Linked DNA regions of Homo sapiens: region 2 is linked to region 1. A link means that fine-mapping ties the variant in region 1 to the expression of a gene that starts in the linked region. Tissue or cell type: whole blood. Region 1 holds a variant in brackets; the other region holds the start of a gene. All regions are shown on one strand. Distances are between the middles of the regions.

What was found. PIP is the estimated chance that this variant, and not a neighbour inherited with it, causes the effect.
Region 2: DCHS1 starts here. The variant in region 1 is fine-mapped to the expression of DCHS1 in whole blood (INTERVAL, PIP above 0.99).

Annotation. Positions count from the first base shown.
Region 1 is chr11:6,704,621-6,712,800 of GRCh38, forward strand. No RefSeq gene overlaps it. Among named protein-coding and RNA genes, the nearest start is that of MRPL17, 25 kb to the left of the region's middle. The variant C/CA (reference allele first, on the strand shown) is at 3,484.
Region 2 is chr11:6,651,177-6,659,356 of GRCh38, forward strand. It overlaps DCHS1 (dachsous cadherin-related 1), which reads right to left and starts at 4,633. Exons shown (of 21, transcript NM_003737.4): 1 at 4,387-4,633.

The sequences.
Region 1 (8,180 bases):
AGATGGGGTTTCACCATGTTGGCCAGGGTTGTCTTGAACTCCTGACCTCAAGTGAGCCACCTGCCTTGACCTCCCAAAGTGCTGGGATTGCAGGTGTGAGCCACGACAACTGGCTGAGACTAACATTTATACTGCTTATATCTAGGCCCATGTCTGTGAAGATATCCCTGACATCTAATCAGTTATCTCTCAATTTTTGCCAAAATTTCCACCTTGCATTTCCATGTCACGAATTATATTTATTCTATCTTCTATTCACAATTTTTTTTTGAGATGGAGTCTTGCTCTGTTGCCCAGGCTGGAGTGCAGTGGTGCGATCTCAGCTCACTGCAACCTGCACCTCCCGGTTCAAGTGATTCTCCTGCCTCAGCCTCCTGAGTAGCTGGGATTACAGGCACCCGCCACCATGCCTGGCTAATTTTTGTATTTTTAGTAGAGACAGCATGAGCCACTGCACTGGGAATGTTCACATTCTTTCCAGCAGTTTTTGTACATCTTTGGAAGAATATCTATGTCCAAATTACTTTGTAAAGCTCTGGGTCCTGTCGTGGCAAAATTGTAGATATATAGGAAATGTGGAGTGAAAAACTGTCACACTCAACCTGTGCAAAGATGTATGTTCAGGCTGGGCATGGTGGCTCATGCCTGTAATCCCAGCACTTTGGGAGGCTGAGGTGGGCAGATCACCTGAGGTCAGGAGTTCGAGACCAGCCTGGCCAACATGGCAAAACCCCGTCTCTAGTAAAAATACAAAAATTAGCTGGGCATAGTGGCATGGACCTGTAATCCCAGCTACTTGGGAGGCTGAGGCAGGAGAATCGCCTGAACCCAGGAGGCAGAGGTTGCAGTGAGCCGAGATTGCGCCACTGCACTCCAGCCTGTGTGACAGAGTGAGACTCCATCTCAAAAAAAAAAATTATGTTCAAAGATGTATGTTAACTGCAGTGCCATTTATGAGTGAAATTTTGGAGTATATATATTATACATTGCCATGTATGCAAAATTGTATGTTTTCCACTATGTGTCCATATGCCTAGAAGGATGAGTATAAAAATGTTCACCAAAGTTAATCTGGATGACAGGATTTTGGGTGTCTGATTTTCTTATGTTTTTCCACATTTTTGAATTTTTTCAATAAATGTAATATTGTAAAAAATAAGAAAGCTTTTCAAAAATTTCATCAAAATTGCATTCATTTTCTTTCTCCTATTTAAAACTCTTGAACACCTCATTTCACAGTGGTTCTCCACCGGGGCAATGCAAATGTTTCAGGGACATTTGACAATGTCTAGAGACATTTTTGTTGCCATAACTGTGAATAGTGCTACTCACATTTAATGGATAGAGGCCAGAGGTGCTACTAGACATCTTATAACGCACAGAGAGTTTCCCACAATAAATTATCTGGCTCTAAATGTTAACTATGCCGGAGTTGGGAAATCTCAGAATTCATTATCCTGATAGGCTCTTTATCACCATCTGGTGGTGAGAGAAGTGCCTGCAACTCCCATGTAGTTTCAGCCAGAAACCAAACTAGGGCCTCAGAAAAAAGATGGGAGGCCCTAAGAAGGGTAGCTATAGTTACAAAGGGAGGTAGAAAAAGAGCAAGTTAATTCATGGCTGAGAGGGTCTGTGATGCTCTTACTAAGAACTGTAGTTGCTCCTGACGCTGCCATTCTGTATCTATGAACGCTATATTATGATTTCCATTTTCCTGCCGCGCTGGGACTCCAGAGACTCAGAAGAAGGAAGTTAGATGCTGAGGCAGGAAAGGCTTTGGGGAAACTTTATGGATTTAATGTGGTTGATATAAGGGGGTAATCTCTACTTGCATCCATAGGTGCCTCCCCATTACATAGGATGATAAAGCTTTAGCTGTGCCAGGAACAATTCTAGATCGCAGCATGTGGGACCAAGTCAAAGCTCCTTGTTTTGGCTTGATGTAACCGTTACTTCCATTTCACTTTTCCTAAGGGATGCATTTGCAAGGCCTAGGCTTCATTCCTTGACTCCACCCCTCCTACCCCCAATTCGAAAGCCACGTAGAAGAAATATCTGTTCTTACTTGCTTATCAGTTTTACTTCTTTTATTTTCATCCACCAGTTTCCTGTTTTCTAATGATCACTTACTAATGAATTTCCCATCTGGCAGCTATGTCTCATGCTCCTCTCTGCTGCTCTCAACAGGGCTGTAGGCCACTTTCCTGCCTGCTGCTCACTTCTGAAAGATCTGTATTCTCTCACTCCTCAAAAGGATGCTGCTTTCTTCATACAGGTGTTGGGAAGAGGAGAATGTTGTATGCCCCTCATTTTCTTTTTGCACTACCTCTTTAGTATCCATCACCCCATTGTCCAAATCTATCTTGACATAGCAATATCTACCAATGCCTTGAAGTAGGTTGCAGGTTGATTTCCCCAAGAGCAGACGGTAGAACAGTGTGGAGGGCAAGATGTTTATTAGGGATCAACGCCTGTGAAGAAAAGGGGCAAAAGTAGGATTTGGCAGAGAAAGACATTGAGCCGTGATGCAGGCCTTACAAACCTTCCCTGAACCTGGTGGAGAGCTCTGTAGAGTGAAGACCAACAAAGCATCCTGTGTCAGGCTACAATGGCTGGGTCTTTCTTTTCTGTCTCAGCCTCTGGATACAGGCTACCCCAGGAAGGGCATTACCTCAGGTGAAGGGGCTCCCTGCAATTGAGGCAGATTGGGAAGATCTGACAGCTGAAGCCTGGCTGCTTACTTCATTCCCCTCAGTTGGGCAGCAAGTCTTCTCTTGCAGGAGGTTCTGGGTGGCACAGTTCCACGTCTTCACAGAGGAGTGGATGAGAATTACAATGTAAACTACAAGATAAACATGATTTTTCCCATGGTTCAAAGGAAAATCGCCAAAGATACATAAACTGTCAGGCAGGTTGTTCCTGGTTCACATCTTTTCCAATTTGGAATAAATGCAAATTCCTTGAATTTCATTAAAAATAACAATGACATTGGATAACTGTTGCCTCAGGAACCCACAACGACGCTCTCATTCTGTCCTGGCCTACTCACATATCTTCCCTCCATTCCTCACCCCTTTTTTGAGGTTTACATTTTAATTCTATTGTATTTTAAAAATCCTATTCAGAGAAAATAAACTATAGATACAGGAAACAATAAGGAAAGCACATTTATAAACACTGTTTCAGTCAAAATAAAGAACTTGGACTGGCCCAGCGTGGTGGCTCACACCTGTAATCCCAGCACTTTGGGAGGCTGAGGCAGGCAGATCGCCTGAGGTCAGGAGTTTGAGACCAGCCTGGCCAACATGGCAAAACCTCCTCTCTACTAAAAAGTATAAAAATTATCTGGGAGTGGTGGCAGGTGCCTGTAATCCCAGCCACTCGGGAGGCTGAGGCAGGAGAATCGCTTGAGCCTGAGAGGTTGCAGTGAGCCGAGATTGCACCACTGCACTCCAGCCTGGGCGACAGAGCAAGACTGTATCT[C/CA]AAAAAAAAAAAAAAAAAAAAAGAACTTGGACCCTCTTCTTCAGGACCTTAACAATTAAGATGGAGTGTAGCCACAACTACATTTCAGTATAATAGCAATAATAATGTTAATAAATGCTATAATTACTTCTATTAACGTGACTTTTGCTGCGGTTATTGCTGCTTCTGCTGTTGTTGGCATTGCTACTACCTAACATTATTGGCACGTGTACCATGTTTCAGGCATATGTATTGTTTCACGTTATTCTTAACACTTCACTGAGGTTGCACCATTTTATGTATGAAGGAAATGAAGCAGAGACAGGTTAACTAACTCATCCAAGGTCATACATGTAGTAAATAGTGGAGGCCCTTCGCACAACTAACAGCCTGGCTTTCACAGGCTGGCATTTTCTAACTCTCAACACTTGGCTTATACCTGCTTCTTCATCTTGAATTACCTTCTTCTTGCTTCCTCTCTCTCTTTGTACCCTTTGACCTACACTTCTGCTTTCCCCCACCCACCATCCCAGCTTCTGGTAACAAACATTCTACTTTCCTTCTTTTTTCTTTTTATTTTTTTATGTTTTTGAGACAGTCTCCATGTGCCGCCCAAGCTGGAGTGCAGTAGAGCTATCTCAGCTCACTGCAACCTCTGCCTCCCAGGTTCAAGTGATTCTCCTGTCTCAGCCTCCTGAGTAGCTGGGATTACAGGCGCCCGCCACAACACCCGGCTAATTTTTGTATTTTCAGTAGAGATGGGGCTTCACTGTGCTGCCCAGGCTGGTCTACAACTCCTGACCTCATGTGATCCGCCTGCCTCAACCTCCCAAAGTTCTGGGATTACTGGCATGAGCCACCGCACCTGACCACAAACATTCTACTTTCTACTTCTATGATTTCAAATTTAGATTCCACATGTAAGTAACTCACAACTTATTCATGTGATTTGATGTTGTTCTAGAATCCATCACCCTGCTTCCCTTTTCTACAGGCCTTGTGACTCCTTCTTTCCCACTGTACTTGGTTCTCTGCTTTAACTGACTGGAACATCCCTAAATCTACTGAAGTGATCCCCAACTCCCATGTCTCTGTTTCCCACTTGCAATGACTCTGCCCCATTCCACTGACCATGAGAGCCCTGTTCCTGCCAATGTCATAACTCTAGCTACCTCTAATCCTGTGAGCTGCACCTAGACCCAGTGTCTCCCCCTGACCACCCCCCCCTTTTTTTTGGTTTCACAAAACAATTTGTTAATAGATGATATTTTCATTTTGAATTACTTGTACCATGATGATTAGTAGATCAGTAAATAAATTTGATAATCAGCCGGGCATGGTGGCTCACACTTGTAATCTCAGCATTTTGAGAGGCCGAGGCGGGTGGATCACGAGGTCAGGAGTTCGAGACCAGCCTGACCAACATGGTGAAACCCCGTCTCTACTAAAAATACAAAAATTAGCCAGGCGTGGTGGCATGCGCCTGTAATCCCAGCTACTCAGGAGGCTGAGGCAGGAGAATCACTTGAACCCGGGAGGCAGAGGTTGCAGTGAGCCGAGATCGCACCACTACTGCACTCCAGCCTGGGCAACAGAGTGAGACTCCATCTCAAAATAAATAAATCTGATAATCGTACAAACTTAGAACTAGAAAGACTGGTCTAATATGTTTACAGAGTGAGGATTTTGAACGCAGGTGTCTCCCCTTCTTGATGATCTCATCCCTCCTGACTCCTGAGGTCTCTCGCCCCAGTGCCACCCAACCCACTGACACTAATCCTCTCCAATCCTAACCCCACCTTGATGGCAGCGCTACTCTCTCCACTTCTATCACAGAAATCCCCATCTCTACACAGGCATCTTTGCTTTATCCCAATTTACCTTTTTCCCATCTTTTGTGTGATTTCTTGAGAACGGCCTCTGAATCTCATTTAATAACCATGCAGCTTAAAATCCTGAGGAATTTATCAAAGACTTTTGAAATTTTATACACACTAATTTTGGTTTGAAAGTCAAGGTTAACATATATATGATACCTTGTTAAAGGATGTTAAAAACGTTTAATTCACACATAATATTCATACATGTTTATGCAGTACAGAGTGAGATTTTAAAAAACTTTTATTTAGCCTCAGGGTTACATGTGCAGATTTGTTATATAGGTAAACTCGTGTCATGAGGGTTTGTTGTACAGATTATTTCATCACCCAGGTACTAAGCCTGGGTGATGACAACTGCAGGCTGGCATTCTCTAACTCTCAACATTTGGCTTATACCTGCTTCTTCATCTTTCTGGTCCTCTCTCTCCTCCCACCCTCCACTCTCAGGTAGGTCCCAGTGTCTGTTGTTCCTCTCTTTGAGTCCATGAGTTCTCATCATTTAGCTCCCACTTATAAGTGAGAACGTGCAGTATTTATTTTTCTGTTCCTGCATTAGTTTGCTAAGGACAATGGTCTCCAGCTCCATCTATGTTCCTGCAAAAGGCATAATCTTGTTCATTTTATGGCTGCATGGTATTCCATGGTGTATGTGCAGGGTGAGATTTTGATACATGTATATAATGTGTAATGATTAGATCAGGGTAATTAGCATATCTATCACCTTAAACATTGATCATTTCTTTATGTTAAGATCATTAAAATCTTTTCTTCTCACTTTTTGAAAATATACAATGAATTATTGCTAACTATAGTCACCCTCCAGAACTATAGAACCCTAGAACTTATTCCTCCTATCTAGCTGTAATTTTGTATTCTTTAACCAACCTCTCCCTATCCCTTTTACAGCCTTTCCCTTCCCAGCCTCTAGTAACCACTGTTCTGTTTACTTCTATGAGAGCAACTCTTTTAGTACTGACCTATGAGAGAACATGTGTTATTTATCTTTTTTTTTTTCTTTTGAGACCAAGTCTTGCTCTCTTGCTCAGGCTGGATTACAATGGCACGATCTCGGTTCACTGCAACCTCTGCCTCCCTGGTTCAAACAATTCTCTTGCCTCAGCCTCCCAAGTGGCTAGAATTACAGGCGCCTGCCACCACGCCTGTCTAATTGTTTTTGTATTTTTAGTAGAGACGAGGTTTCACCATGTTGGCCAGGGTGGTCTCAAACTCCTGACCTCAGGGGATCTGCCCGCCTCGGCCTCCCAAAGTGTCAGGATTACAGGCGTGAGCCACCACACCCGGCCAAACATGCATTATTTGTCTTTCTGTGCTTGGCTTATTTCACATTAGAGACTTTTATGAATTCATCAAACAAACATAAAAAGCATTCTGAAAATGGTAATTGAACAGTGAGCAGTTTGTGGGCGGCAAGCCACCCAGGTGCTGAGGCAAGAGACCAAGGGCACGAGCTGTTCCAGTATAATATATAAAATATACTATACTATATTATATTATAATATATATTATATATATGATAATATATATAAAATAAGAATAGTTATACTAGATATATATCTTAGATATGATTATATATGAATATCATTAATCATTAGTTTGTAGTAATTATTCTTTATTCCAATATTATAATAATCCTTGCTCTACAATCATAACCTAAGAAAAACCAGGCCATACAGAGATAGGAGCTGAGGGGACACAGTGAGAAGTGACCAGAAGAGTGCGAGGCTTCTGCTATGCCCAGACAGGGCCACCAGAGGGCTCCTTGGTCTAGTGGTGATGCCAGTGTCTGGAAAGACTCCCTTTGCCAAGTGGACTGTGGTCTAGCGGTAGCGTCAGTGTCAAGGAAAAACACCCACTACTTAGCAGACCAGGAAAGGGAGTCTCCCTTTCGCCGGGGGAGTTTAGAGAAGACTCTACTCCTCCACCTCTTGTGGAGGGCCTGACATCAGTCAGGCCCGCCCGCAGTTATCTGGAGGCCTAACCGTCTCCCTGTGATGCTGTGCCTCAGTGGTCACGCTCCTAGTCCGTTTTCATGTTCCATCCTGTACACCTGGCTCTGCCTTTTAGATAACAGTAGCAAAATTAGTGAAAGTACTAAAAGTCTCTGATATGCAGAAATAATGGTGTCAGCTGTCTCTCTCTCTCTCCCTCTGTCTCTCTGCCTTGGCTGCCAGGCAGGGAAGGGACCCCTGTCCAGTGGACATGTGACCCACGTGACCTTATCTATCATTGGAGATGACTCACACTCTTTACCCTGCCCCTTTTGCTTTGTATCCAATAAATAACTGCGCAGCCAGACATTCAGGGCCACTACCGGTCTCCGCGTCTTGGTGGTAGTGGTCCCCTGGGCCCAGCTGTCTTTTCTTTTACCTCTTTGTCTTGCGTCTTTATTTCTACGTTCTCTTGTCTCTGCACATGGGGAGAAACCCACCAACCCTGTGGGGCTGGCCCCTACACAGTTTTTAAGGTTACAGTGATGTGAGAGACAGGCACCATGTGGGGCAGGGGTTCTGCTTCTATCATATTTCCATTTTGTTGTTTTAGGAGATCCTTCCAACTCTCACTAACATTATTTTCCAGAGAACAAAAGAAAAACTATACTCTCCAAGAACATGTTTCCTTTGTAATTTTTCTGTCCTCAAACTTTTTCTGGAGAGATGAGTCATTTGACCTGACATTGAGAATAGGCTTGAAGCCCTTTGAGAGGACAAAGGAGATAGAGTCAGCATTCCTATCTCCATGCTCTGAAGATCCAAGTCACTTGGTTACTGCTCCCTGGGCTGTCTATTTTCACTGTTTATGGAAGATAGAGTACACCTG
Region 2 (8,180 bases), 53 kb before region 1:
CAACGAAACACAGAGTTCAAGCCTGCCCGGTGGAGTCATTAAAGGCAGGGTTTGAGACCAGATATGAGGAAGGGAAGGGATAAGCCAGGAGGGAAGGGAGTGAAGGGCCTTTCAGGCAGGCAGAGCAGTATGTGCAAAGGGTCAGAAGCATGGAAAAAGGTAGTGTCTTTGGTGAACTACAGGAAATTCAGTATGGCTGAAACTCAAAACGTGAGGGGGCTGGGGAAATGGGGCAGGTGATGAGACTGGGAGGCTTGGGGAGGTCAGACTATGATCTCATAACCTTTGTTAAAAAGAAAAGATTTTGTTCAAGGAAAATGGAAGGCATTTGAATAATGCTGAGCAGGGAGTGACATAGTTGGATTTGTACTTTAGGAAGGTGTCTGTTACTCCAATGAAAAGAATGGATTGAAAGAAGGAAGAGAAGTGTAGAAAGAAAAGTTAGGAGGCTCTTGCAAAAATTCATGTGAAAAGATGGTAGATGAGGGCAACAGCAGAGGTGATGGAGAAAAGGGGATGGGATATCAGAGATTGCTGGAGAGAAGATAGAACCAACACGTTCCAAGGGATTTCTGGATTATGGGATACGTGGAGAAGGGAATGGTGACAGTTAATTTCTGGGATTCCAGCTTGCAACCTGAGTGGGGATGGTCATTTGGGGAAGGAAGGAATGATGAGATCAGGTTTGCACATGATAAGGGGTCGGTGAGCTATACAGTAAAGAGCAGGCATGCAGCAGGTATGCAGAAATGTGGCCTAGAAGAGAGATGTCTGTGAGTCATCAGCCTATAGATGTTAATAAAAGCCTTGAAAAATGAATGAAATTGATTACCTAGAGGTGTGTATACAGTGAGACAATAAGAAGGTCCAAGCCAGAACTTTAAGGAACAGTGACATTCAGGGGGCATACAAAGGATCCCTCAAAGCAGACTGAGAGAACAGCTAGGAGGAGCTCCAGAAGAGATACATACCATAATGTAACTTTCCACTTATTTGCCTGTTAAATGTTGATAGAATAAAATCATGGCTCAGAAGCCAAACAACAAAAACAACTCAAGGAGAAAAGAATGGTCAATAATGTCAGCTCCTCCCGAGAGGTCAGGCAGTTAAGGACTTTTGAAAAGATCCTCCAGATTGAGCAGAAGAGATGTTACTTTCTCCTAGGGAAAGCAGTTACATTTGAGGGGCAGGCACAAATGGGAAGTGAGGAAGTAGGAACAGCTATATGCAGAAGACTCTTTCACAAAATGTGACAGTGAAGAAAAGTGAGGAAGCCTCTTAGTTAACGGGGTATTACAGGGTTAAAGAAAGATAGGAGAGGCTGGAGGATCTTTATGTCCTCCCAGGAGGAATGGGAGAAAGGAAGGAACTGGAGACGTGGGAAACACATGGAATAATCAGTTGAGTGAGGTCCCTGTGGAAGAGGAAGGGGATGGGATCCGTAACACAGGTAGAGGATTGGCCTTAAGTAGAAGAGACAGCACTTCGTTCTTATAGGAAGGAAGGAGAAAAGATTGAAGAGGATGCAGATAAAATTTGAGGGAGGAGGCAGAAATCTGAGGGAATTCAAAACAGATGGCCTCAATTTCCTCAGTGAGCCAGAAGACCAGGTTGTCCACTCTTAATTCCTTCCTTTCCTTCACCCCACCATGTCTGCTTTGTCACTGAGCCCTGCTGATCCCACTGCCTAAAGAGCTCTTGAAACCATCCACTTTCTCCTTCTCTCCGGCCACTACTCCAGTTCAGGCCAGTGTTATACCCTCCAGAGTTTCTGCAACAGCCAACTGTCCTTCTTCTCAGGCTCTTTCTCCAGTCTCCACATGGCTGTCAGAGTGGTATTTCTAAAATGAATCTGATCATATCGCTCCAAGCTTCCAATGATTTGGTGACTCTCCATTATTCTTGGGTTAAATGAATTTCTTTCTGTGGCCTCCTAGACCCTGCATGGTCTAAGCCTCCATTTACCTCTCCCACAGACTCTCCCTCTCTCGTCACCTCATGCTGTAAGTGTCAGGCTCACTGAACTGCTTTATCCCTCACACACACACTATTTTCCTTCATGTGGGCTTTTACATGCTGCTCCCTTGGCTTGGCATATTCTCCACCCACTCCATCAAGTTTAAGTTTAAATGCCACTTCCTCCAGAAAGACTCTTCTGACCTCCCTACACTGGCCTAGGTTACTCTGCTGTGTGCTGCTGTGTTACAACACTCACTCCACAGCCTGTAAGCTCCATGAGGATAAGGACCATGTCCATTTTGTTCACACTTGTGCTGCCAACTCTCATCACAATGCCTAGCAGAGTAGGTGCCTAGTATGTGTTTGTTAAATGAATGAATTAGCGTTTTGATTAATTAATCTACTGAAAACAATGGTGTGAGGGATGTGGGGTAATGAGTGTGAAGAAAATAGAAAAAAAATCATCTATTTATTTATGAAGGGCCCAGTTGAGGTTTGAATTTTTTAGAAGTATGAATTTATAGAAGCGTCCCCTGGTGTGGTTGAGAAATCATTCTAGTTAGGGGCAATAATTTGAGGGATGAGTATAGAAGACAAGGAAACACAGTGGCCAAGGAGTGGTTGAAGGGATGATCCTTAGCATATGAGCTGGAAAGAAAGCACAAAGTCAGAAAGGAACAGAGTAGGAGAAAACAAAGAGGTCAAGGGCAAGAGGTCATTATGAGGTCAAAGAGTGTAATGGGAGCGAGAACATCTGAAAGCTGGAAGGATATAGGAGGTTGTGGGTAGAGAGAGGAATGCAAGAGTTTAGAATTTTAAAGGTGGAATAGTTCTACAGAGTGGTCCTGGGAGGGAGGAAGGTAACAGGAGCTAAGGAGGTCAAGAATCTGTGAAGCTGTGGTGTTGAAGGACACTGAGAAACCATGGCAGGATACACTATCCAGATCTCGAAGTTTTCAGGGAACAAGAGGGTATACCTGGGAGATCTACGTATGAGAAGGGGTGAAGGTGTGAGCTTGATAAGTTAAGCAGAGTTTATTCAGAAGTTGGGACAGGTCTTCCTGTGGTGTGCATGCCATCCATGACTGTCTCCTGGGGGTTGTACAAGTGGCTGTGTGGTAAGGGCAACTGTGGCACAGCCTCCTGTTAGTGACAGGCTTCTAGGACACCCACTATGTATGGGCAGCTCCAAGGAAGTAAACCTAATAAGATGTGCTGTGACAGTTGTGACAGTGCTTCTGATGGATGTGGATTGCAGTGACAATGTCTCCTGAGAGGTGCTGGTCTACTTGTTTGTTGCTGGTGACAGTGTTTCTGGAGAGTGTTAGCAGTAACAATGTCTTCCATGGTATGTGTTGGCCTTGACAATGAACCGGTGGGAGTATGTTGGTTGCAGCATTTCTCCTGTGGGTGTGTGTTGTCATGAGAGCATTTTCCGTAGGTGTGTGTTGGCTTGATAGAGTCTGCTGTAGGTGTGTGTTGGTTCTGACTGGGGGTGCTTCCTGGGGGTGGGCTTCCTGGAAGTGTATGATGGCTGTGAGGGTATCTCTTGAGGATGTGTGTTCCCTGGGACTGTGTCCTCTTGTGGGTTGAGTAGGGCTATGACTGTGTCCCTATGGGTATTTGAGAAGTTGACATAAGCGACAATATTTTTCTGGCCTATGACCTTGTGGCTGTGGGCCCAGCCCGCCACACTGAGTTCATTGTGCTTCTAGACCTCCCTCTCCCCACCCCCTCCACGTGGGACCCACGCCTGCGGTGACCTTGCTCTGTCCCCTGCACGGGATTCTGAGCTGGGTATCCCAGACACAAACTCCCAGTTGCTCCAATCTCCCACTCAGAACACGTCTGGGTGACCCCCCCCTCCATCCACTTCAGGCTGTGCCTGCCTCTCCTCTGCTTCTCTGTACTTCTCCCCACTCAGTTTCTTTGTCTCTGTCTCAGTTGGTCTCTGTCACACACCCATCCTCCACATTCTGACACATGGGCTCCCACAGAGCGGGCAACACACCCTCACAGGGACTCGCTCACCATGACACACGGTCATTCTGACCCTCACACCCTCAGAGTGACACGCACATGCACACACAGCCAGAGAGACGCCCAGGGACACACAACCTCCCAGTGACACGCACTGACACACTCCGACGATGCACTGGAACACAACGCTGTCGCACCCCACACCCCCGGCGCACGCTCCCGCCGCCACCCTCCCCGACTCGATGACACACGCACACAAAGACCCCCAGGCCCTGCCCCCACGCTCACGTTCACGCCCGCCCGGGTCCCGCAGGCCCAGGCCCCCCCTCCCCCATTGTCTCCGGCTCAGAACAAAGCCCCCGGCTCCGCCGCCGCTGCCGCAGCCCAGGGGAGGCCGGCGGGCAGGGCGGGCGCGGCCAGACGGGCCGGGCGGGCGCGGGCACTGACCTCCGCGCGACGCGGGCTCCCTCGCCCGGTGCTGGGGCGCCGTCCGGCCGCGGTCAGCCCCCCGGGCAGCGCCCGCTCGCGCGGGGCCTGAGGCCGCGCATCGTCCGCAGTCGCTGTCTCCGAGGCCCGCGATCCCCTCCGGGCAGCCGCCGTCGGTCCGCGCGCCCTTGGCCGTCGATCGGTCCGTCCGCTGACGCCCGGGCGCCGCCTCCTGCACAGCCGCCCCGCCGAGGATGCGAGCTCCGCTGCCGCGGCCCCGCGCCCCCTCCCCTCCCCTCCCCCCGCCCTCCGCGCGGTAACCCGAGCCCCCGCCCCTCCGCCCGCGGAGCCCCCGCCCCCGCCCCCACCCGCGCTCCGCGCCGCCGCCCCCCCTTCCCCCCGGCGCCCGCCCGGCCTCCCTCCGCCCCTCCACTTCCCGGCCCCAGGCCCCGGCTCCGGATCCGGCCCCAGCGCCGCGCCGCGCCCCCGTCCCGGTTCCCTTCCCTTCTCCCCGTCACTTCTCCCGTCCTCTCCTCCCATTCGGTTCTCTACGCCCTCTCGTCTCTTCCCCTTCTCGCCGCTCCCTGCTGCTCACCTCCTCCTCTTCCATCTTCTTTCCATCCCCTATTCCCCTCTTCTCCCTCAGTGCCCTGGTCTCCCTCTCGCCCCTTCTTTTTCCCAACCGTCATCTCCATTCCCCTCTGCCTTTCTCCCATCCTCTTCTTCTCGCCCCATCTCCATCATTTTCTCCCCAGCTCTTCTCCCCTTTCTCTTCTCCTTACCCCTTCTGCTTGATCTCTCTCCAGCCTCTTTACATCAGATTCTCCTTCCCCACCTCTCCTTTTATCCTTTTCTTCCTATCCCTTTCTCCCCGTCTCTTCTCCCCACCTTTCTCCCCATCCCCTTCTCCCTGTGTCTTTCGCCTCACCTCATCATCCCCTTTTCCTCACGCCTTCTCCTCATTCCCTTTTCTCACCCCTGCCCTTTTCACTACCCGCTGTCTCTTCCCCTTCTTCCATCGTAACCTCGGCCTTCTCCCCTGTTAGTCACTTTTCATTATCCCATGATTTCTGTCTCTTTTCTCTCCTTCACCCCCAGGCTCCCTTTCCCCCACTTTCTCTTTATCCCAAATTTGAGGGTAGAGATCGGGAGATATTGGAAAGAAGAGCTTTGGGGATGGTGGTCCCACTCACGATATACTCCCTAGAAAAATTAAGTGAGGAGGAAACCGGGCAGGGAAGTGGGAAGGGGCTCAAAAAACCAACTTGGGAGAGAATATGGGGAGAGGGGAAATCAGACAGAGACAAAGAGCAAGCAATCTTAAAGGAACTGGGAAGAGTTCTGACTCCTGTCCTTCTTCCTTAGGACTGCGAGTAGACTGTGAGAAAAACAGGTTTTCTGGACTTGAGATGTGTACAAATGGCACAAAGAAATCAGGAACTTCTGTGGAGAAGGAACACAGTTTCAGCTGAAGAAGAAGGGAGTGTGATTTTGGAAGAGGAGTGAGGGAGAGACTGGGGTCCTTGATCATATCCACGGCGCTTGGGCAGCTGGGTGGATGGATGGTGGTGAGGCTGGCTGTGCTCCACAAAAGGAGCAGCAGGAGGCTGCAGGGGGTTCGTATGAGGAGATGATGACTGTGACTTGGGGCTGCTGACTTTGAAGTGCTGGTTGGGTAGGTAGGTCTGCAACTTAGAGGAGCGGTCTGGGATGGACATAAATATTTGGGAGTCATCTGCAAATGCCGTATAAGCTTGAATATAGGGTGAAGTTTTTGCTTTTTTGTTTTTCCAAAATCATCCCTCAGGAAAGAGGGAGTAACCTTATATTTGAGTCCTTACAAGGTCTCTCATATTACAGGGTTTGCTCTCATTTACTTTATTTTGAACAACAAACCACTGGATAGGGCAGTATGGTATGGTGACTAAGCTTGTGGACTCTGGAGCCAGACTCCCTGGCTCGGGGTCCAGACTCTCCTATTTACAAGCTGTGTGGCACTGGGAAAGTTACTTAACTTGTCTCTGCCTCAGTTTTCTCATCTATAAAGTGGGCCTAAGGATTAAATTATGTAATATATATAAAGCACTATATACCTGGCACTATATGGTAAGTGTCCAATAAATGCTAACTATTTTTACTGTTTGGCTAAGACCCATTGACCTGAAATGTCCTCAACAATGCTATTTTGGATGTATTGTAGTCAAAGAAATTTAACACAGCTTTGGTAACTATTCCTGGTAGTATGACCTCATAATCGCATGTGTTGGATGTCTCAAAATATGCTTTTTAAAGATTGCTTTAAAAAGCAATACAGTAGTACTTGGAAGAGGTTTCTGGGCTGCCGAAAATGTTCTATTTCTTGACCTGAGTGGTTATATGGACCTGAGGGATGTTTCACTCTGACAGTTCATTGAGCTGAATATTTATGATGGCTTGTGGCCTTTTCCATATAGATGTTATATTTCAGTAAAAAAAGTTAACAGAAATATAATTTTTAAAAAGTATTACATTAAGTGATGTTTTGAAGTCATGAATATACTCAGGCAGGGTGCATGCAAAAAACCAACTGTTCTAGTGTGATGCAAAGGAAACTTGTGACTTAGGATAAAGTTTCCAAGGACTGCATCATCTGTGAATTCAAACTGTGCTGTGTCCTCTCCCAAGCCCTTCGCTTAAACTGAAGAGAAGGACATCTGTTCTGGGAAAACATGTAAGATGGCTGAAAAAGTGATCCTAATGATGAGAAAGACACTGCTTGTGTTGAGTATGCATAAAATTGCTTCATAATTTATGAGAATGGAAAAGACAATATTTATCAGTTATATATTTTTATATGATATATGAATTTAAATATATGTCCAATAAAGTCCATTAACTCATAGAAGTACACTTTTGATTGTTTCATCCTCATCCTTAAAGGTTTACATTTCTAGGTTGGTTGAAAAGCTTTTTGGATCTTCTCACTGGGAAAAATGAAAAATTACTGTTTGGGCAAGACCCATTAACCTGAAATGTCCTCAACAACCCAATTTGTGTTGCTTTGTATACAGTAAGCTGTATTGTATAGTAAGTGTGACAGATGGTAAGTGAAGGTAAGGGAGTGAATGAGATTACAGAGGGAGAGCATGTACATTAGGAAGAAAAGAAGGTCTAGGACAGATGCTGAGAAGCTCCAACATGTAAAGGTTGAGAAGAGGAGGAGCCCTCAAAGGAAAGTGAGAGGATGTGGCCAGACAGGGAGGAGAAAGAAAGGGAGGTGAGTGGTGCCACTGAAGCCCAGGGAATGGCCACAGAAGAAGCCATGAAGTGAGGAGAGGTCATTAGGTTGGAATGACACAGAGGAGGCCAGTGAGGTAAGGACTGAAAAGTATCCATTGGATTTGGCTGGGGCCTAGGGGGCAGGCTGGTGACCTTGGGGACAATGTGGTAGGTGGAGTGGTAAGGATGAAGGCTAATTAGCACTCAGTAACTAAGGAGTGAGTGGAAGGTGAGGAACTGAAGACTTGGAGTAGAGCTTATTCTTTAAGGAGGCCTAACTACAGGGGAGGAGAGAGACCTATAACTGGCGTAAGGGATAGGAGTTTTAGGGGGTCAGGAAGTTTTTCAAATAGAAGAATCCAAATTCATTTATTTTCTTGCTTCCTTCATTTATTGAAGATACATTTAGGTGCCTGCTATGTGCAACTTTATAGTTAAGATACAAAAATTAAGACATGACTAAGGAACTCATGGTAAGCTGTGAAGACAGACCTCTCAACTGACAACAGAAGGTACAATAGAGGAGAGCATGGGGTTGTGGATATAGGGGGCTTCCT